Regions from separate parts of the Homo sapiens genome. Here region 2 is linked to region 1. Evidence: fine-mapped expression QTL. A gene starts in region 1. The other region holds a variant in brackets. All regions are shown on one strand. Distances are from middle to middle.

Region 1 (11,543 bases):
AAGTGTTGCACCACCAACTTTCCTGACAACATTTGGTACCTATTTTTATTATTATTTTTAATCATTCTGCTGAACATATAGTGATAGCTAATTATGGTTTTCATTTGCATTTCCCTGCCGACTAACGATATTTAACAATTTTCATGTGCTTATTGTTCATTTATCTTCCCTTATATGTTCAAATATTTTGCTCATCTATTAGATTGTTTCCTGTTTATTATTGTGTTGTAGGAATTTTTTATGTATCTGAGTGTCAGTCCTTCGTCAGATTCCTATTTTGTAAATATTTATTCCCAGTGTGTGAGTTGCCTATTTATTTTCTTACTGATGTCTTCTTAATTATGATGAAATCTAGTTTATCATCTTCTCTTTTATTTTTATCATTTCTGTGTCTCCTCTAAGAAATTTTCCTACTCCCATTACTTAGATACTCTCCTCTAAAAAGCTTTATGGTGTTAGCTTCTATGTGAAGGTGTGTGACCTCTCCTAAGTTAATTGTTGTGTATGCATGAAGTAGGAGTCATGGTTTTTTGTGTGTATATCCAGTCAGTCAGATCTTGTTTTTTGTTTTTTTTTTGAGATGGAGTCTCACTCTGTCACCCAGGCTGGAGTGCAGTGGTGCCATCTTGGCTCACTGCAGTCTCCACCTCCTGGGTTCAAGTGATTCTCCTGCCTCAGGCTCCCGAGTAGCTGGGACTACAGGCACGCGCCACCATGCCTGGCTAATTTTTATATTTGTAGTAGAGACAGGGTTTCACCATGTTGGCCAGGCTGGTCTTGAACTCCTGACCTCAGGTAATCCATCCACCTCGGCCTCCCAAAGTGCTGGGATTATAGGGGTGAGCCACCACGCCTGGTCCAGTCAGACCATTTTTTAAAGAGACTTCTTTCCCCCACCGGATTGTTCTGTGCTTTCCTTAGAAACCGAGTAAATGTTTTAAGCGAGGGTCTATTTCTGGGCTGTCTACTCTCTTCCACTGAAATATTTGTTAGTTCTTAGGCCAATACCACATTGTTCGGATTACTTTAGCTTTACAACAAGTCTTGAAGTTCAGTGAGCGAAACCTCCCATCTTGCTCTTCTTCTAGATTGCCTTTTCCGTTGCTATGGTTGATGGAAATTATCCAATATTGTGTATTATTTATTATTAATTATTGCTTCTCACTAGAATGTGAAGCTATAATAGTAGAGGACATAGTTCTTATTCCATACGGTGTTGTCTGTGCCTAGAACAAGACCTGGCACTTTGTTGGCTCTGAAGAAATAAATATATGTTGAATACATAGCCGATATGGTTTGCCTCTGCGTCTCCACCCACACCACACGTTGAATTGTAATTCCCAGTGTTGGAGGTGGGGGCTGGTGGGAGGTGACTGGCTCATGGGGCAGAGTTCTCACAGATGGTTCAGCACCACCCCCTCGGTGCTGTTCTCCCGATAGTGAGTGAGTGAATTCTTATGAGATTCGGTCGTTTAAAAGTGTGTGGTGGTTGGGCGCAGTGGCTCACGCCTGTAACCCCAGCACTTGGGAGGCCAAGGTGGGCAGATCACCTGAGGTCAGGAGTTTGAGACCAGCCTGGCCAACATGGTGTAACCGTGTCTCTACTAAATACAAAAATTAGCTGGGTGTGGTGGTGGGTGCCTGTAATCCCAGCTACTGGGAAGGCCGAGGCAGGAGAATCGCTTGAACTAGGGAAGCGGAGGCTGCAGTGAGCCGAGATCCCACCACATGCACTCCAGCCTGGGTGACAAAGTGAGACTTCGCCCCCACTCCCCCCAAAATAAATAATAAAAAAATAAAAGTGTGTGGCACCTTCCCCTTCTCTCTTCTTCCTGCTCCGGCTATGTGAAGGTGCCAGCTCTGGCTTTGCCTTCTGTGGTGGGTGAAAGCTCCTTGAGGCTCCTCCAGAAGCAGAGGCTGCTATGCTGCCTGCACCACTTGCAGAACCATCAGCCAATTGAACCTCTTTCTTTATAAATGACCAGTCTCAGGTATTTCTGTAGAGCAATGTGAGAATGCACTCATACAATAGCTTTCCATGGGCATTTAGTCAGCTCAGGAAAGCCACTCAACTCCATACATTGTCACACTTTATTTTGGTGGGATGTGTACCCAGTGTGATACTCTGTGGTGTGATCAACAACCAAATTTCAGATATTTTAAAAAATCAAATACACCCACAAGGTATGGAGATGAAGCAGTGGTAATGATATCTAAATAGATATTCCACAAGATCTAAAAGTCATGACATGAAAATTATTCCAGGTAAGTGTCAGGTAATAAAATCACCTTAGGTGACTAATCCTAGGAAAACAGAACTAATGTGAGTATATAGAATTGTTCTAATATACTTAAAAATAGCGATTTTACTAATATTCTAATTTAGTTCTCAGAAACAGAAAAAACAACAAAAAAAACTGGCTTCCATAAACTAATATTCCCATCTCATGGCCTTTACAACTCTGGCACTAATCATTGTAAAGCTGTGCACATTCTTTATATCCACAGGCCATGAGGAATGCCACAGCTAGGCCAGCAAGGATGCATTTGCTGACTTGCCCAGGCACGTGAAGGATGCAGGGCTGGCAATGATACCTCTCAAATGCTGGGGACCAGCTCCCCACCTGCCCCCTCTCTGAGAGTGTCCCAAACCTCTCTTCCAGTTCCTTCAGAACTTCCTATCTCTATTTACCAACTCATAGGTAAGGTCCCTACAATACATTCTCCTTGCTTAGGTGAGATGTACCCCTCTGGTAGGGCTCCTGCTATAGGTCAGAATTGCTGAGAAGGACTAATCCATTACAAAGCATATCCCTGAATGACTTAAGGACTTGCCCCATCTGAAGACATTTCATCAGTGGGCAAAACTCACCAAATGCTAGGCAGGAGGAGTGAAAGAGGAACAAACTTGGAGAGACTCCTATGAAATTTCAGAATTGCAACCATGCACACAAAAATCCTAAAACCTTCATTTCCAAAGAAAAGAGATCTTGATTAATAAAAAACTTTTCATCAGTAACATGAACCACTGGAAAACAATAGAGATAAGCTTTCCAAACATTTAGAGAAAATTATTTTGAATTTAAAATTTCATATCCAGGCAAAGCATAGTGGCTCATCCCCACAATCCCGGCACTTTAGAAGGTGTAGGCAGAAGGAGATCAGGAGCTCAACACCAGCCTGGGCAACATAGTGAGACCCCGTATCTACAAAAATATTTTAGAAAGTAGCCAAGTGTGGTGGCACAAGCCTGTAGTTCCAGCTACTTGGGAGGCTGAGGCAGGAGGATCGCTTGAGCCCAGGAGGTTAAGGCTGCAATGAATCATGATCACACCACTGCACTCCAGCCTGGGCAACAGAGCAAGACCTTACCTCTAAAAAACAAGAAAATTACCTTTGACCAGGCCAAGAAAATTACCTGTGGCTCATGCCTGTAATCCCATCACTTTAGGAAGCTGAGGCTGGAGGATCCCTTGAGCCTAGGAGTTTGGGACCAGCCTGGGCAACACAGGGAAACCTCATCTCCACCAAAATTTTTTTTTAAATTAGCTGGCCATAGTGGTTCACACCTGTGGTCCCAGCTACTCGTGACACTGAGGTGTGAGAATTGCTTGAGCCAGGGAGGTCAAGGCTGCAGTGAGCCACGATCATGCCACTGTACTTCAGCCTGGGCAACACAGCGAGACCTTGTCTCTAAATCGATAAATGAAATAAAATGAAATAAAATAAAATAAAATAAGATAGGGAAATTTCACATCCATCTGAATAACTAAATAAAAAGGTATAAGTATTTTGAGATATGCAAAAATTCAGTAAGTTTATAGCCATACGATCTGTATGAAAAGGTTATTCTAGGACATGCTTCAGTAAAACAAGCAAAAATGCAGTTAAAGGATGAAATGAGAGTGAAGAAAACGTTGCTGTTGAATGAGATCTAGCAGAAATAAAGAAAATGAAAAAAAATTAAAAAGAGACTCACTCAGCCTTAGAATTTTGGAAATATTTTGTGAGGGCACATGGAATTCACATTCTTTGTCCAAGTGAGAGACAATATTGCCTGATGGTTAGGACATGGGGTCTGGAGGCAGACTACCTGGAGTTAACCACTATCCATAGTTTGATTTGTAAACTTTGCAACCTTTGTAGTAGGTTCATACACAGGCACGCCCATATGAAGACACATACCAGCACGTAATCATCTGTAAACCTGGGAATCAACTTGCTGAAGCCAACTCCATTTTTACCCGAGTACCCCACAATTGCCGATACCAGTTTCTGATCTTCCCATACACCTTAACAACTTTCCACTTCTCCACTTCTTCCATTATCCTTCATTAGGTGAAAGAAAGCCATTTACTTACTCCTAGGCATACCTGAATGTTCTCTCCTATCTAAGACATTGTCATACAATGCCAGCTCCTGTCTCCCCTCCAGCCAATAAAACTAACAAAAGGGGATACGCTCTTTTAACCTCTTGGAGTTTTGTTTCTTTAAGGCAAAGATGTGATTTGCTAAAAAGACTGTTGCAAAATGATTTCCATAGCTTCCCTAATGTGTTTTTTCCAGGTACAGAATGCTACAGAGAAAAAAATTAAATACTGCATAAATACATTATCACATTAACTAGATATTGGTGCTATTACTTGTGTTCTGAGTTATACCCTTCTCCCATGCCCATATCATATCCCTTTTCTTCCACTTTCCTTCCTGAATAATTCTGACTAGATTTCAAGCACCAGATCAAAGAAAGACCAAAGAAGGCTAAAACCACATGCATTCTGCTAGCAAACTCTACTCAGCAAGAGAGACCCTGCCCAGTAAGAACGTGAAATGAACACCTTCACTTACTTGGATGACTGCTAGCCTTTCCTTTTTTCTTTAGTCCAAATCCAGACATTTCATCAGGGAAGTGTGTGGCAAATAGACGGCACTCTCGAAAGTGAAAGTAAAGCTTGAAAAAAAATGCTTTTATGTTTGGTGCATTCCAAGAAGGGCAAAGGGAGAAAACAAAAACAATCTCTGACAACCTCAGAGAGGCGTTTCAAACCGCCTCTGAAAAACACCTAGTTTTTATTTTATTTTAACTTTTTTTAAGCTGAGATCCTTGGATTTCATTGAAAGGGTCACAGATTTAGCAACAGCTAAAGTTGAAAGTGGGGACCTCACCATTTGATGTGGGCGGGTCTGGACCTCTGCAAGTTAAGGAATAACAGTGAATCCCTCAATTTTCTGCTAGACTCATGCGAAGCTGTCAGAATTGAGTAGTGTATGGTCACAGGGACAGAAAAAAAAATCCCTAATCAAAGCTGAAGTACTTTCCCTTCTTTCGTCTGGCTTTTATCTCTTTGCAACACTGTAAAATAACACCGGCAGAAATTAACCTCTTGATCCAGGAAGAAACTGAGTTTCACAGCAGAGAAAGAGCCAAACATGGCAAAGCTGAGAGCCAGTCCCACTCCTGCTGATCCACTTTTCCACGGTCAGACGCGTTAGGGAACAGATCAGTATGCCCAGAAAAGTTCAGATTAACTAAGAATTTCGTTCTTAATTTGCTTTAATGACTCCAACTAGTTAAGTAAATGTACTTGTTAAGAAATGAACTCACTTTTTTTCATTACAGATGTGCTATGATCTATTATAACTATATTGTTATATAGTGAAATATCACAATTGGAAGGAACTATAGACCACCTAATCTAACTCCCTTGTTTGAGAAATTAGGAAAACGAAACCTAGGGAGGTGAGTGGTTTGCCTAAGAACATGCCACAAGCCACCATATGCTTCAATCACACAAGTCATAAAACAACTGGACGGCTGGGACATGGCATTAGCTTGAACTCATTGCAGAGCTGATGGCAAGAAACAAGCGTGCATCATGGTGCAAAGTGCCCTCTTGTGGGCTCCAGCTTCAGCTAGACCGCTTTATAGTTACTGGGCTCAGGGCTACATGTCTCTGATTTTCATTTGTGACATCTGTAACATAACACCATAAGCAAACAGATGTCCTGAGTACGTGACTGTCCCTCACATCTATCCATTGGGATGTCCAGGAAAACTTCACTAATATTCAAAAGATTTCTTCTCTGTGAGCGCCTTGAAGGCAGGGTGAGGTTTATTCTTTGCATTATAGCTCCCCAGCAACCCTCTGAGGTAGACTGTTTCTTTGGCCTTCAATGAAAGAGACTCGTCCTCAGAATTCAAACCCTTGTGTGGCCTTCTCCCACGCTGACTCTAGGCTTGGCCATTTGACTAGCTTTGACCAGTGGGATATTAGCAAGCATGCAACAAGGTCTCATTGCCAAACACGATTACCCAGGCTTGAGAAGCAAGCAAATAAATGATTGTTGTTTTAAATTTAAAAAAATTGGAATGGTGTCATATGCATTATTAGCGAAATAAAACACATCATCTCAACAATCCTTCATACCTATCCCTTATGCCTTATGACTCCTTATACAGATTAAATTTCCCACGACTTTGGTTGACTAATGAATGGCTCTCGATAAATAAATTTTATTGATGGTCTCCTGATGCAGTAGTTTGGGCTTAATACCAGTTCATATTCAGATATTATTAGTCCTTAATTCTTGCTAGTTTCTAAATACAACACAGATTGTTTTCTCTCTACTGTACATTTCTTAACTATGTGCATTAACTTATTTAGCTATGATGGTGATTGGAGCAATAGTGAAAAACCTCATTTTTCCCCTTTTTAAAAGAATTAAGGCTGGGAGCAGTGGATCATGCCTGTAATCCCAACACTTTAGGAGATTGCTTGAGCCTAGGAGTTCAAGACCAACCTGGGCAACGTGGTAAAACTCCATCTCTACAAAAATTACAAAAATTAGCTGGGCATGTTGGTGCATGCCTATAGTCTCAGCTACTTGGGAGGCTGAGGTGGGAGGATCACTTGAGTCCAGGCAAATTCAAGTTTGCATTGAGTCATGAGTGCGCCACTGCACTCCAGCCTGGGTAACAGAGGGAGACCCTGTCTCAAAAAAAGAGAGAGAGAGAATTAAAAAAAAATGTATGCCCATAAATGTAAAATAACAAATTTAGTAAACACTGATATTTCACAGCATTACAGATCAGCCAATCTCAGAATAATGGGAAGCTGTATATTCCCAGCAAAACAGAGATCTACAGAATTCTAGAAGCCAAAGTCCCTTAAATTTATTCACATTCTAAAAACTCTAAGTTCCCTTCTTCCATTTGAGGGGCCTCTTTAATGAGAGTTTAGTAAGATAATATACACAAAATTTCTGGAAGAATCACTTGACAAAACACAGCAAGTTACAGAGACCGGAGTGACAAGCCAGATATAATTAGCAAATTACCACTCACATGCTGAACTACACAGACACTGTTCTTCTCTGCCCGTTCCTAATAACAATTCTTAATAAAACAGCCGTTTTTATTTTTTTTAATCTTTTTTTTCCTGAGACAGAGTCTTGCTCTGTCACCCAGGCTGTAATTCAGTGGCGCGATCTCAGCTCACTGCAAGCTCCGCCTACCGGGTTCAAGTAATTCTCCTGCCTCAGCCTCCAGAGTAGCTAGCTGGGACTACAGGCACGTGCCACGACGCCCGGCTAATTTTTTGTATTTTTGGTAGAGACGAGGTTTCACCGTGTTAGCCAGGATGGTCTCGATCTCCTTACCTCGTGATCCACCCACCTTGGCCTCCCAAAGTGCTGTGATTACAGGCGTGAGCCACTGCGCCCGGCCAATTACAACCATTTTACCTATAGACAAAGATAGTGTATAGTCTGTAGGCAGTCTAGTCAATTCATTATAAGATTTATAAGGGAAAGTTTATCATTTTCATTATCATCATTATCAGCACCTACAATACTGAGGCTTTACGGAACCATCTTTACAATCTCCCGAATGAATGAATTTAGACATGAGGATTGTGTCACCGCAGTTTCTAACCACAAATATAGAGAATTGAAATTGTGGGGCAAACAGAAGACTCTCCTCTCAATGCATGTATGTGAAAAGGCAGATTAGTACTGAACAATACAATAATTACACTCTGTGAGGGCCAAATATAGAGAGAACTAATTGCTCAGTAATACTTAACATTTGTGCCAGCAATGAATATCCAATTATGAGTGAGCTGTTGGGTATTTGAGGCAATATCATGCATAGGTTTAATTTAAACGGGCTCTTAGAGTCTCAGAAGTAAACCTTTATTCATGGTGTTAAAGTACATTAAAATGGAGACCAGGCCAGAAGAATCCATGAACATACCAAACCAGCAAGGGCTCATAAGCGACCTCGACCTTGCTTGATCTGCAAACATAAGTGACATACGCAAACATAATAACTTGAGCACTATATCTTGTAAATGCCTATATTAAAGAAAACGTAAACACAACCAATCAGAAGCAGCCAACAAACTTATATAACTAAGGACTTTCCAATGAGATAGACCAAATAAGGTAGCTGTATAACTGTAAACAGTCAAGCGCTGTCTTTGCTCTACTTCTGTCTCTGTCCTGAAAAAGCCTTCTCTTGTGTTCCCTTGGTGGAGCTCCCCAACCACTTCTGGTTCATGAATCATTGCTGGTTCAGAAGCACTGTAAAACTGTATTGTGCCTCAGTTTACTTTTTTATTTGTATAGATTTATGGGAGTACTAGTGCCATTTTGTTCCATGCGTAGATTGCATAGTGATGGAGTCAGGGTCTTTAGGGTATTCATCACCCAAATAACATATATTGTGCCATTAGTATCAGTTTACTTTTTAAGAATAGGAACAAGGAGATTGGACCAACCAATGTTCTCTGGGTTGGCAGGAAGCCAAAGTAAGGCTAGACCTTTTCATCATTCAAACTTCTCATGGGTATGTAATGCGATGAATATATTATGAACCTAAACAAATGGTTAAATTCCCTGAGAGCACCAGATAGACAGTCATTGTGAACTGCACTCAACTGGTCCCTTCACAGCCCCCATTCAGAAAGGACATGGTTCTGATCTGTATTGGCTGAAATTCTAGGAAGCATTTCTTTTCTTTCTGAATCCTTTCTCTAAAGTGAAGATACAGTTCCTCTTACCAGTGTCACTTCTATTTCTGCTCACTGAGCTTTCGCTAGTTTGAACTAGGCTCAACCAAAGACCCCAGCAACAACTTTAAGAGAGAAAATAACAAATGTCCCTCTCCCTACTCTCGCTCATGTCCACTGAGCAGTATTGAAGTTGAATTTCCCCTCTGAAAAAGAAACCAATGTTTGCCACAGAGAGCTTCTGGTTTAATCTAAACTTTTTTTTTTTTTTTTTTTTTTTTTTTGAGGTGGAGTCTCACTCTGTCTCTCAGGCTGGAGTGCACTGGCACGATCTCAGCTCACTGCAACCTCTGCCTTCCCGGTTCAAACAATTCCTGCCTCAGCCTCCTGAGTAGCTGGCACTACAGGTCCCTGCCACCACACCTGGCCAATTTTTGTATTTTTAGTAGAAACGGGGTTTCACCATGTTAGCCAAGGTGGTCTCGATCTCCTGATCTTGTGATCCACTCACCTCGGCCTCTCAAAGTGCTGGGATTACAGGCGTGAGCCACCGCGCCCAGCCTAACCTAAACTTTTATTTATTTATTGTATTTTTTGTAATTTTACAAGGTAGTTGAAAGTGATACTTTTTTTTTAATGTCATGAGATATGCACTGTTTTATTCCTTCATTTTAAGCCACTCTATCGAGGTATGATCGATATACAAAAAGCTGTGAATATTTAATATATATAACTTGATGAGCTTGAAGACAAGTATACTTCTGTGAAACCATCACCACAATCCATACCATAAACATATCCATCACTTCCAAAAGTTTCCCTTTATTCTATTCATTTATTATTATTTTTGTGATATATCACAACATGAAATTACCTTTTTGGCAAATTTTTAAATATATAATACAGCATTGTTAACTATAGGCACTAAACTGTACAGTAGATCTCTAGGGCTTACTCATATTGTATAAGCTGGACTTGGTGCCCTTTGACTAATACCTCTCTGTTTATGCCTCCTCCCAGCCCCTGACAGCCACCATGTCACTCCCTCCTTCTATGAGTTTGACTATTCCAGATTCATCATATAAATGATATCATGTAGCATCCTTCTGTCCTTCTGCATCTGGCTTATTTCACTCAGCGTAACATTCTCTGGGTTCATCCATGTCGTCACAAATGGCAGAACTTCCTTTTGTAAGGTAGAATAATATTCCATTGTATGTGTATGCCATATTTTCTTTATCCATTCATCCATCAATGGGCATATAGGTTGCTTCCATGTTTTAGCTATTGTGAAGGCAATAGCATTGAAAAGAATAAAATACTTAAGAAAAAACTTAAAGAAGTGAAAGACTTGAACACTGAAAACTATAAAACATTGATGGAAGACATTAAAACAGACACAAGTAAATGTAAAGACATCCTGTGTTCATGGATTAGAAGAATTAATATTATTAAAATGTCCATACTACTCAAAGTGGCCTACACATTCAAACATAATCTCTATCAAAATCTCAATGGCATTTTTATAGAAATAGAAAATTTTCCTAAAATGTATTTGAAACCACAAAAGACCCCAAATAGCCAAAGCAATCTTGAGCAAGAACAAAGCTGAAGGCATAAAATGTCCTGATTTCAAAGTATGTGACAAGGCTACAGTAATCGAGACAGTATGGTACTGGCTTAAAAACAGACTAATGGAACAGACTAGAGAGCCCATAAATAAACCCATGCATAGATGGTCAAGTTCTTTGACAGGGCTGCCAAGAACACACAACAGAGGACAGGATAGTCTCTCCAGTAAATGGTGTTGGAAAGCTCAGTATCCATATGCAAAAGAATAAAATTGAACCCTGTCTTACACCATACACAAAAAATCCACTCAAATTAGTTTAAATACCTAAACATGAGATGTGAAACTGTAAAACTCTTAGAAGAAACACAGAGGAAAAAGCTTCTTGACATTGGCCTTGGCCAGTGATTTTTTTGGATATGACACCAAAAACCCACGCAACACAAGCAAAAATAGAAAAGTGGTAACATCTTGTTGTTTCTTATAAATCTATGAAATGGATTTAGGTGAATGGGGTCTCTCCTTTATTAACAATGTTATGACACGGCTGTTCAGTCCCTAGGCCCTGAATTCAATATTTATTTATTAAAATCAAAAGTAAAATTATAGATACAACTTCACTATCATCCTCCATTTAAAATATCCTAATTAAATCCACTAGGCTTCTAATAAATGGAAACACAAATGTCTGACAAAACTTCTAAGTGATCACAGAAGGAAGTCTGAAGTATCAAAAGCAAGCCATAACTTACCATAATCCGATTGAATTGGTTATTGGAGAGTTTATGATCATGCAAATTGACCTCCATTTTATAATGCAAATTTTAAATCAACAGGAGAAATTAAAAGAAAGCCCAGAGTTGGAAGGGATGCTGTTGCTTTTGAACATGCCTCTTGCTTTTCACCTAAGAGTAACCTTTATCTGTATCATGGGATGATCTTATAATAAGAATATGAGAGCT
Region 2 (8,871 bases), 140 kb before region 1:
GCAGGGGATGCTAAATACCCATCAAATACGCATCAAATACCCTTCAAAGAAGAACATGTGGATCAAGGCAGGGGATGCTAAATACCCATCAAATACCCATCAAAGAAGAACATGTGGATCAAGGTACTGGATGCTAAATACCCATCAAATACCCTTCAAAGAAGAACACGTGGATCAAGGTACTGGATGCTAAATATCCATCAAATACCCTTCAAAGAAGAACACGTGGATCAAGGCAGGGGATGCTAAATACCCATCAAAGAAGAACATGTGGATCAAGGCAGGGGATGCTAAATAGCCACAGCTAAAGCAGAATTTCTAACATTATGCATTATCAAAATAAAATGGACAATGTGCCAAGTAAAATAAACAGACACTAAAGGTCACATATTGTACGAATCCATATATAGGAAGTACTCGGAATAGGTAAATCCAGAGAGACAGAAAGTAAATCACAGGCTTCCAGGGCCAGGGGAAGGAGGAATCAAGAGGGACTGCTTAATCCTACCAGGTTTCCTTTCGAGGTGCTGAAAATGTTCCGGAATTAGGTAGACATAACTATCGTACAACATGGTGAAGGTACTAAATGCTGCTGAAATGTACATTTTAAAATGGTAGATTTTATGTTATGTGACATTTACCTCAGTAAAAAAAAAAATAACATTTAAGGAATTAATACTTGCAAAGTATTAATTATTAATTATTTAATATTTTTATATATTTTAATATATTTTATATATTATATAATTTTTAATATAAATATAATTTAATAATTAATTATTAATTAATAATGCAAAGTAATAACTCACTACACAAAGAATAGTTGCTCAAATGTTTTTTTCTTTCTTTCTTTCTTTTTTTTTTTTTGGAGACAGAGTCTTGCTCTGCTGCCCAGGCTGGAATGCAGTGGTGCAATCTCTGCTCACTGTAAGCTCCGCCCCCTGAGGGGTTCATGTCATTCTCCTGCCTCAGCCTCCCGAGTAGCTGGGACTACAGGCACCTGCCACCATGCCCGGCTAATTTTTTTGTATTTTTAATAGAGACAGGGTTTCACTGTGTTAGCCAGGATGGTCTCGATCTCCTGACCTCGTGATCCGCCCACCTCGGCCTCCCAAAGTGCTGGGATTACAGGCGTGAGCCACCGAGCCCAGCTTAGTTGCTCAAAAATTCTAGAACTAGGATTGGGGGTAGAAGAAAAAGTGAGGCACAATGAGCAGAAAACACAAGAATCACAGAGCAAAGCTTCTAGTAATGATGACTGTGTCACTCATTCTGCAGGACCACAAAGCTTTGTGAAACTGGTAATGAGCTAAACTTTGTAGGGGATACAAAAGATTGAAGCCTATTCCAAAAGAACTTGTGAGCTTTTGGAAGACCAAATTTATCCACTCAAGGCAATCTAAGCAAAACTAAAATCAGTGTTAAAAAGATAAAATGATGACAAAAATGTTGCCAAAAGTGTTAGATGGTGTCCATTCTGCAAAATAAAAGCTTGCCTCTTAATATGAAATTCCAGTCCCAGCACAATCTGCACACAAAACTGCTTTTCCATCCTCATCTCCCAGTGAATGAGAGATGAGTTCTCGCGGTCTCTCACTCTCCACTATTGCCCTCCATGCCAGAAACCTTTCCACTTCTGTGCCGTTGCTCATCTGCTTCCTCTCTTTCTAGAATGCCTTCTCTCTCCAGCTTTATTCCTTTAGTTTTCTTTCCCTGCTTCTCACTGTAAAACTGCATCAGATACCACTTGTTGCTTGGCTAACTCAACTTTATTCCTTTTCACCTTGCAGCTATTGGGGGCCATATGACACGTGATTTTTAACAAGGATAAAATCTATGGAAGCCTCTTTGTGGCAGACTGATAATGGGCCCCAAAATATCAGGTCTTAATCCCTGCAATCTGTAAATGTTACCCTATTTGGAAGAAGAGAACTCTTGGCAGATTTGATTAAATTAAAGATCTTACAGTGGGTAGATTATCCAGGTGAGCCCTGAACGCCATCACAAGTATGTCACAAGTATGCTTGTGAAAGACACACAAGCACACACATGCACACACACACACACCACACATGCATGCACGTGCGTGCACACACTCACACCCAGAGAAAAGAGAAGGCGATGCAGAGACTGGCAGAGATAGCAGTGATGCGGCTGTCAGCCAAGAAATGCTGGCAGCCACCGGAAGCTGAAGAGACAAGGAGTGGATATTTTCCCAGTGGGCCACAGCCCTGCCCACATGGTGATGTGGGCTCAATGACACTGATCTTTGACTCGGGTGTCCAGAACTGTGAGGGAACAGACGTCGCTGCTGTGAACCTCCCTGTCTGTGGATTTGTCACAGCAGCAGCCACAGGACACCAACACACCCGGTACCCCCACCTCCCCTGTCTTCCTGCCTTGAAGATGAACGTGATGCTTGGAACGTCAATCATGAGGACAAAAGCCAAGATGGTAGGGATGGCTGGGAGCAAAAGGGCAAGTCTGGGACCCTGGACATCCTACTGGCAGGACTTTTCCTCCGGGCTGCTTGCTGTGTAATAGAAATGTATCTCCTCGAAGCTTAATCCACCTTTTTAATCCACATTTTCTCTCCTTTGTGGTGAGAGGCAATCTGCGAAACAGCTTTCCTGTACCTTTCTAAATAGTTTCACCAGCTCCTCCTTTCTCCCAAATAGCACCTTCTTCACTCAAATGCACGACCCATGACTCAAAGCCTCTGTTTCGCCTGGGTAGCAGTGAGACCCTTGAGGACAGCAGCACGCATCAGTGCACCCCAGCATCCGGCCTAGTACAGTCACTTGCCAGGCGACTGGCAGAGGCCTGTGAGTGAATGGACGAGGCCTTGCAAAGGGGATGGTACTGGAAAGGATCCCGTGGGGGAGCCTTCCTGCTCATTACACTGTGTTTACAACACAGTGACATCTCTGCAGCAGACTTAGTACCACAATATAACCAGTGAAGGGGCCAAACATACCAAACACGTCATCCAATTCATGATCCACTTTTTTCTGGACTTCTGGGTTAGAACCCAACAGGTATAAGGACCAGTTTATTGCAGCTGCAGTTGTATCGTGCCCCTACAAATGCAGAAAACAATAGCTTAAAAAGCAGAGTTATGCTGCGATGATTAGGAGTGACCAGAAACCTCTTTTGAATTGTCTCTGGATTTGATGACTGCACTGTGACTGCAAACATAAGAAATGAATTCTGTGCAGCACCTTGCCTCGGTGACAAACAAGGAAACAAGCCTGCAAAGCGGAGGTTCATGCCTAGAGATGGCAGTTCCACGCCGCACGGTGTTGCACGCTGGTGGGACGTGCCTGTGCTGTGTTAATAAAGGCGGCGTTCCATGGGCACGAGGTGAGCTGCGCCTTTGTGAACAGAACAAAGTCTGATTTTCACGAGCCTGCTTGTCAGGGCTGTACTTCTCTGCCTTCCCCCATCTGTCAGGTGGGCCTCACCTGTTGATGACGGGCACCAGGGGGTAGAGGTGTGGTTCTAAGTCATATCCTCTGCAGTAAAAATTGACAACAACCTCATTTCATACTTGCTGAGTTTTAGGCAAAATACTAAGCACTTTGCAGAAACTGAATTAATCTGCACAAAAACTCCATGAAAGACTCATTACTGTTCTTTACAATTCAGAGATTAAAAACTGAGGCCAAAGATGTGGTTAAATAACTTCTTCTGTGCTAAACAGCTTAGTGGGAAACAGAGGCAGAAACTGAGCCTGCGGCGTGTCCGATGACAAAGCCAGCTGAGCCCACGCCATTCCCTCCACACCCTGTGCAGTAAGGACGCTCCACCTCCACCTCTTACGCCAGCGTAACGTCTCCACCTCCACCTCTTACGCCAGCGAAACGTCTCCACCGCCACCTCTTACGCCAGCGTAGCGCCTCCACCGCC[G/A]CCTCTTACGCCAGCGTAGCGCCTCCACCGCCGCCTCTTACGCCAGCGTAGCGTCTCCACCGCCGCCTCTTACGCCAGCGTAGCGTCTCCACCGCCGCGTCTTACGCCAGCGTAGCGTCTCCACCGCCACCTCTTACGCCAGCGTAACGTCTCCACCTCCACCTCTTAGCGGTAGCGTAACGTCTCCGCCTCCACCTCTTAAGCTAGTGTAATGTCTCGGGCAACCTTCTTTCCCACCCATTTGATATTTCAGGACCTGGCTTCTTATCTACCTCCTCATCTCCCTAGCACATTTCCATATGCAAAAGTGGTGAGTTCTTCAGAAAAAAAAAAAATGTATCTGGAAAGTCAATAACAGTAATCTACCTCTCTGAAACTTTGAGGACAAAAAGAAAAAACAAATTATTTCCTCTATAAAAGATCTCACTTTTCCATTTTTCCTATGTGGCACAAGTGATTTTTGTAATATTTCATTCTCTGTGCAGAAATCTTCAAAGTACTTGTTTTATAAAACAGCTCCTAAAATGAATTGCTCGGGGCTTATTCTGCAATTCTTAAAAGACACAGCCTACAGGTCCTGAGGTCGGCGCCTCTGCATTTTCCTAGCACTTGCAGTTACAAAACCTACTCGGAACTCCAGATGAGCTCCGGCCCGTTGTGCTCAGTTGTCTAAGTACGGAAGGAAGTATTCTGGCTAAACAATTTTAATAGCTTTCCTTGAATTTATGAGCGGAAGCCTGATCCAAATGCATAAGAGGAGTCTGCTGAACTTCCGATTTCATTTCATCTGCCAACTGCAGAAAGCATGATAAGGCAAACGTAAAGCACCGAGGCACACTGGTGGAGCAGGGGAGGACGCCCACTTTTAGCTCACAGCTGGAACCTGGGCAGTTGCAGCCTGCACCAGCCTGTGGAGGAGGCCACAGTATCACACTCACAGCCTGCACCGGCCTGTGGAGGAGGCCACAGTGTCACTCACAGCCTGCACCGACCTGTGGAGGAGGCCACAGTATCACACTCACACCTGGTATGCTGCCTCCCTTTCAATGCAAAGAAGAAAACAATTAGAATGTCAAGGAATGTTAGAGTTGGAAGAAAAATCATTAGTCTGGTTCTGATTGTTTACGTGAGATTGAGAGGTTCCTGGTAGGAGATGGATGTGTGTGTGCACATGTGTGTACATATGTGTATGGGGTTGTGCACATATATGAATGTGTGTACGTGGATATGTACATGTATTTGTGTGTGCCTTTGTGCTTATGTACACGAGTGTACATAGCTGTGTGCATTTATGTGTGCATGTGTGTATATATGTGCATCTATGTATGTGTATATGCGCATGTGTGTATGTAGGTGTGTACATGTGTTTTTGTATGATTGCATAAATGTACATGAATGTGTGCCTCTGTGGGGGGTGGTGTGTGCATGTATGTGTATGCATGCATGTGTGCATGTGGGTATATGTGTGCATGCATGTGTATGCATGCATGTGTGCATGTGGGTATATGTGTGCATGTGTGTGTATGTGCATGAGTATCTGGGTGTGTGTGTATATTTGTGTGTGAGTGTATGCACGTGTGTGCGCATGTGGATATACATATGTTTGTGTGTGCATGTATGTGCATGAGTGTATGTAGGTGTGTGCATGTGTTTGTGTATGTGTGTATATGTGAATGTGTGTATGTTGGTATATACATGTGTCTGTGCATGTGTATGTGCATGAGCATATGTGTGTGTGTAAGTGTGTGCATGTGTGTGCATGGGTTTACATGAGTGTATGCGTGTGTGTGTGTAGTACATGGGCAAGGTGAAGATGTGAGATCTCTCTACTCCGACATGCAATAATAACACCCGGTATGTGCCGCATACTTATGGGCCAATCACGATTCTCAGAGCACCTTTACAAATCTAATCATCATAACTATTCCATGAGGCTTGTGCTATTAAAATAAGAATATTCAGGCCCAGAACGGCTAGGTGAGGTGCTTGAGGTCATGGTCCCAGCATGTTAGCTGGGATTTGATCTTAGAGCCCACACACTTAACACCTCTCTACTTTTCAGCTAATTTAGATGTCCATTTTCTGCTTAAGATTTATTTTCAGTAAAGTTTTCTGCTTAAAAAAGTTTAAAACCACCAACGTAGTCCATCTCTCGCTTTACACATAGGAAAATTGTGACAGAACTCTGGAATGATCAGAACTATCTTATTTGGCTAATCAGCACAGAGCCTGAACTGGAACTCGGATCGAAAGACCCATCACACAACCTTCTTCTACCGTGTCGTGGAGCCTCACACCAGAGTGCAGGACACTGGCACTGCCGCCAGAGGCTGCCGCAGAGCAGCTCACACGTGGGTGGCAGGCAGAGCCATTAAAAACTCAGGTGCCTTTCACTCTGCCCCATGTGGACGATATTACTACATGGCTTCTAAAAACCATGTTTTATTTATTTTGCAATCCACATATAGAGAAAGTCCCTCTTTGTAGGATTTAATATTTAGGCTATCTTGCTAAAATGTACTTCACATATGTATGTATAAATTTGAGATCAGAGATCTTTTTAGAATCATGAACTGGCTGATTCTCTGTTGGAGGGCTCTTAACTGTCCTCTAGGTAGAGTAGCTCATGGCAGCAGCTAAGTGCTCATCTGCTGGAACCTCAGAAAGCAGGTGGTGAGGAAGTGGACTTGCATGTCTGGGAGGTTAGAAGGAAGCCTGAAGCCACATGGAGAACTGAGAGCAATCTCTGGCTGCTCTTCTGCTTGGGAAAACTCTGACAAATCTTAGGTTTTCTTGAGGAAAAACAAATGTGTCTACTGCTGTGCCCAGCACTAGTCAAAATCGTTTTCTGAAGAAGTTGAGCTGGTACTTAATCAGTTTCTTAAATTTTGTAATTTCTAATTAAAATATAATGAATCTTCTTTAGTTAAACTACTTTAAAATTTGATTGTTTTAAAAAATAATGCTAAAGATTCTAACAATAACTGAAATTTGTTTAATGATATCTGAACCTAACAATATACAATACCTCAAACATGAAGGTGTCAACTTCTTCTCGAATATCTTCATGACTTAGCCTGTTCCCTTCGTCATCAGTCACACTTAAAAGCAAGTCAAGAAAGGCCCTGCGTTTATTTTTGGAGGGGGCAGAGCCCCTGCCATCACCTCTACAGTCTTCATTGGCGTTCATTTCATTGGCCCGTTCAGCGATGACCTGTATGATTTGAATGATAATCACATGCTTCTGTTTGGACTTGGATGCACCCTAGTTAACACATTTTCTTATAAAATATGCTAGTTTCTTTCATTTATTTTTCTAAGCCTATTTCAACATTTCGACAACATAGGCTCTTGTGAAAATACAGTAAAGCCTCATTAATATTTTGGGGATTATCTGGTGAAACTTTTAAAAACAAATTTAATGTCACGCAAATTCCTAATTTTCAAGTGCTATTTTTGCAGTCTTTCCAACACAAGAATAGAATCATAGTCTACTAGATAGTACCCTAGAGATTGGATTGCGCTAATGAGAAAAAGTTTAAGTGGTAGAGTGAATGCAATCATTATACAACAGTCTAATTATAGACTTAATTACATGTTGTAGAGGAGAAAAGAAACAGCAAGCAGATTAGTGAATTCACCCTCTATGCTTGCGATTTCTGCTGCCTGAAATGCTTTCCTCAGAGGCCTGCACGGCTGCCCCCTCCCTTCTTCCAGATCTCTGCTCATTGTCACACGATCAGAGAGACCTCCCTCATCCCTGCTACCCCTGTCCCTAGCACTGCGACGCCTCCTAACAATGCTTTTTCTCCATTTCCCTTGCCACCTGACATTATGTGATACTTCTGTCATACTTATTATTATAATGTGATATTATACTTACGTTATACTTATTATTTAGCATCTTTCTCTTACAACTCAAACACTGCCATGCTTGTGCATGTCTTTGTTCATTGATACATTTCCAACCTCTAGAGCACTGCTTGGCATTTAACAAATACTCACTAGATATTTCTTGGATGGATAAAAGAATGAAGGCCAATACACTTAATTTGGTTGTACATTTCAACCTTCTTTTCCTACCAGGTAATTGACCAAACCTGCTACTAAGTGGCCTGAATAGATTCTAAGCAATTTGAGGGCAAAACACCATGTCTTTTTTTATTCTTGGTGGAATTCCTAGAGCCCAGGCCTCAGTAGGCAATTCTCAATGTTTATTCAATGAATAAAATTGTCTATTCAGTCTGGAATTCATTTAATTATTGCTATTAAATATTAATGCACAAAATTTAAGGAAAAATATAATTATGAAATATAACCTGCTGGCTATTCTCCTATAACCAGGTGATCACACTCCACTGTGGCCAGCTCAGCCAACATTGCATTCATGGAACATCTACTGATTTATTCATCATTTGCTCTCTTGGGGGTAGGGTGTACTTCACCACAAGGACATAACTCCAATAGATTTTAACCAAAATTTACAGCAAAGAAAGGACATATTTAAACAGGCAGTTTTTTAATACACTGAAATTATAATTTGATGTATATTTTCAATTAAGTCTTGCTTTTTCAAAACACATTATTAACACAAAGATTGACATCCTATATTCAAAACAACATCACTATCTTCTGGTTATTTTTGAATTGGAAATAGAATACTAATATCTAGTTAGTTTTAATGTTTTCCATGTTAAGATACTGCTATCAATGCCCTCTGCCTTTGAAAATGACTGCCGAATCCAAACATTTTCCAGAAAACTCCTATACATAGATCTTTGTTCCTTTATTCTTTTACACAGCACCCTGTTTGTTCATAAGTGTTCACAGCTCATATCACATGTTGTAATTATGTGTTGATAGATCACCTCTCCTACTAGAATAACTTCCTTTCAGGTACGGACCATATACACATGTCCTACTCATTACTACATTTCCAACATTTGGTATGGTGGTTAGCAC

Evidence for each region. PIP is the estimated chance that this variant, and not a neighbour inherited with it, causes the effect.
Region 2: its variant is fine-mapped to the expression of TLR3 in blood mononuclear cells (TOPMed, PIP above 0.99).

The regions. Positions count from the first base shown.
Region 1 is chr4:186,062,554-186,074,096 of GRCh38, reverse strand. TLR3 (toll like receptor 3) reads right to left here and starts at 4,941. Exons shown (of 5, transcript NM_003265.3): 1 at 4,849-4,941.
Region 2 is chr4:186,199,409-186,208,279 of GRCh38, reverse strand. CYP4V2 (cytochrome P450 family 4 subfamily V member 2) reads right to left here. Exons shown (of 11, transcript NM_207352.4): 7 at 6,938-7,123; 8 at 2,978-3,080. Among named protein-coding and RNA genes, the nearest start is that of CYP4V2, 12 kb to the right of the region's middle. RefSeq lists an enhancer at 6,334-6,383. The variant G/A (reference allele first, on the strand shown) is at 3,910.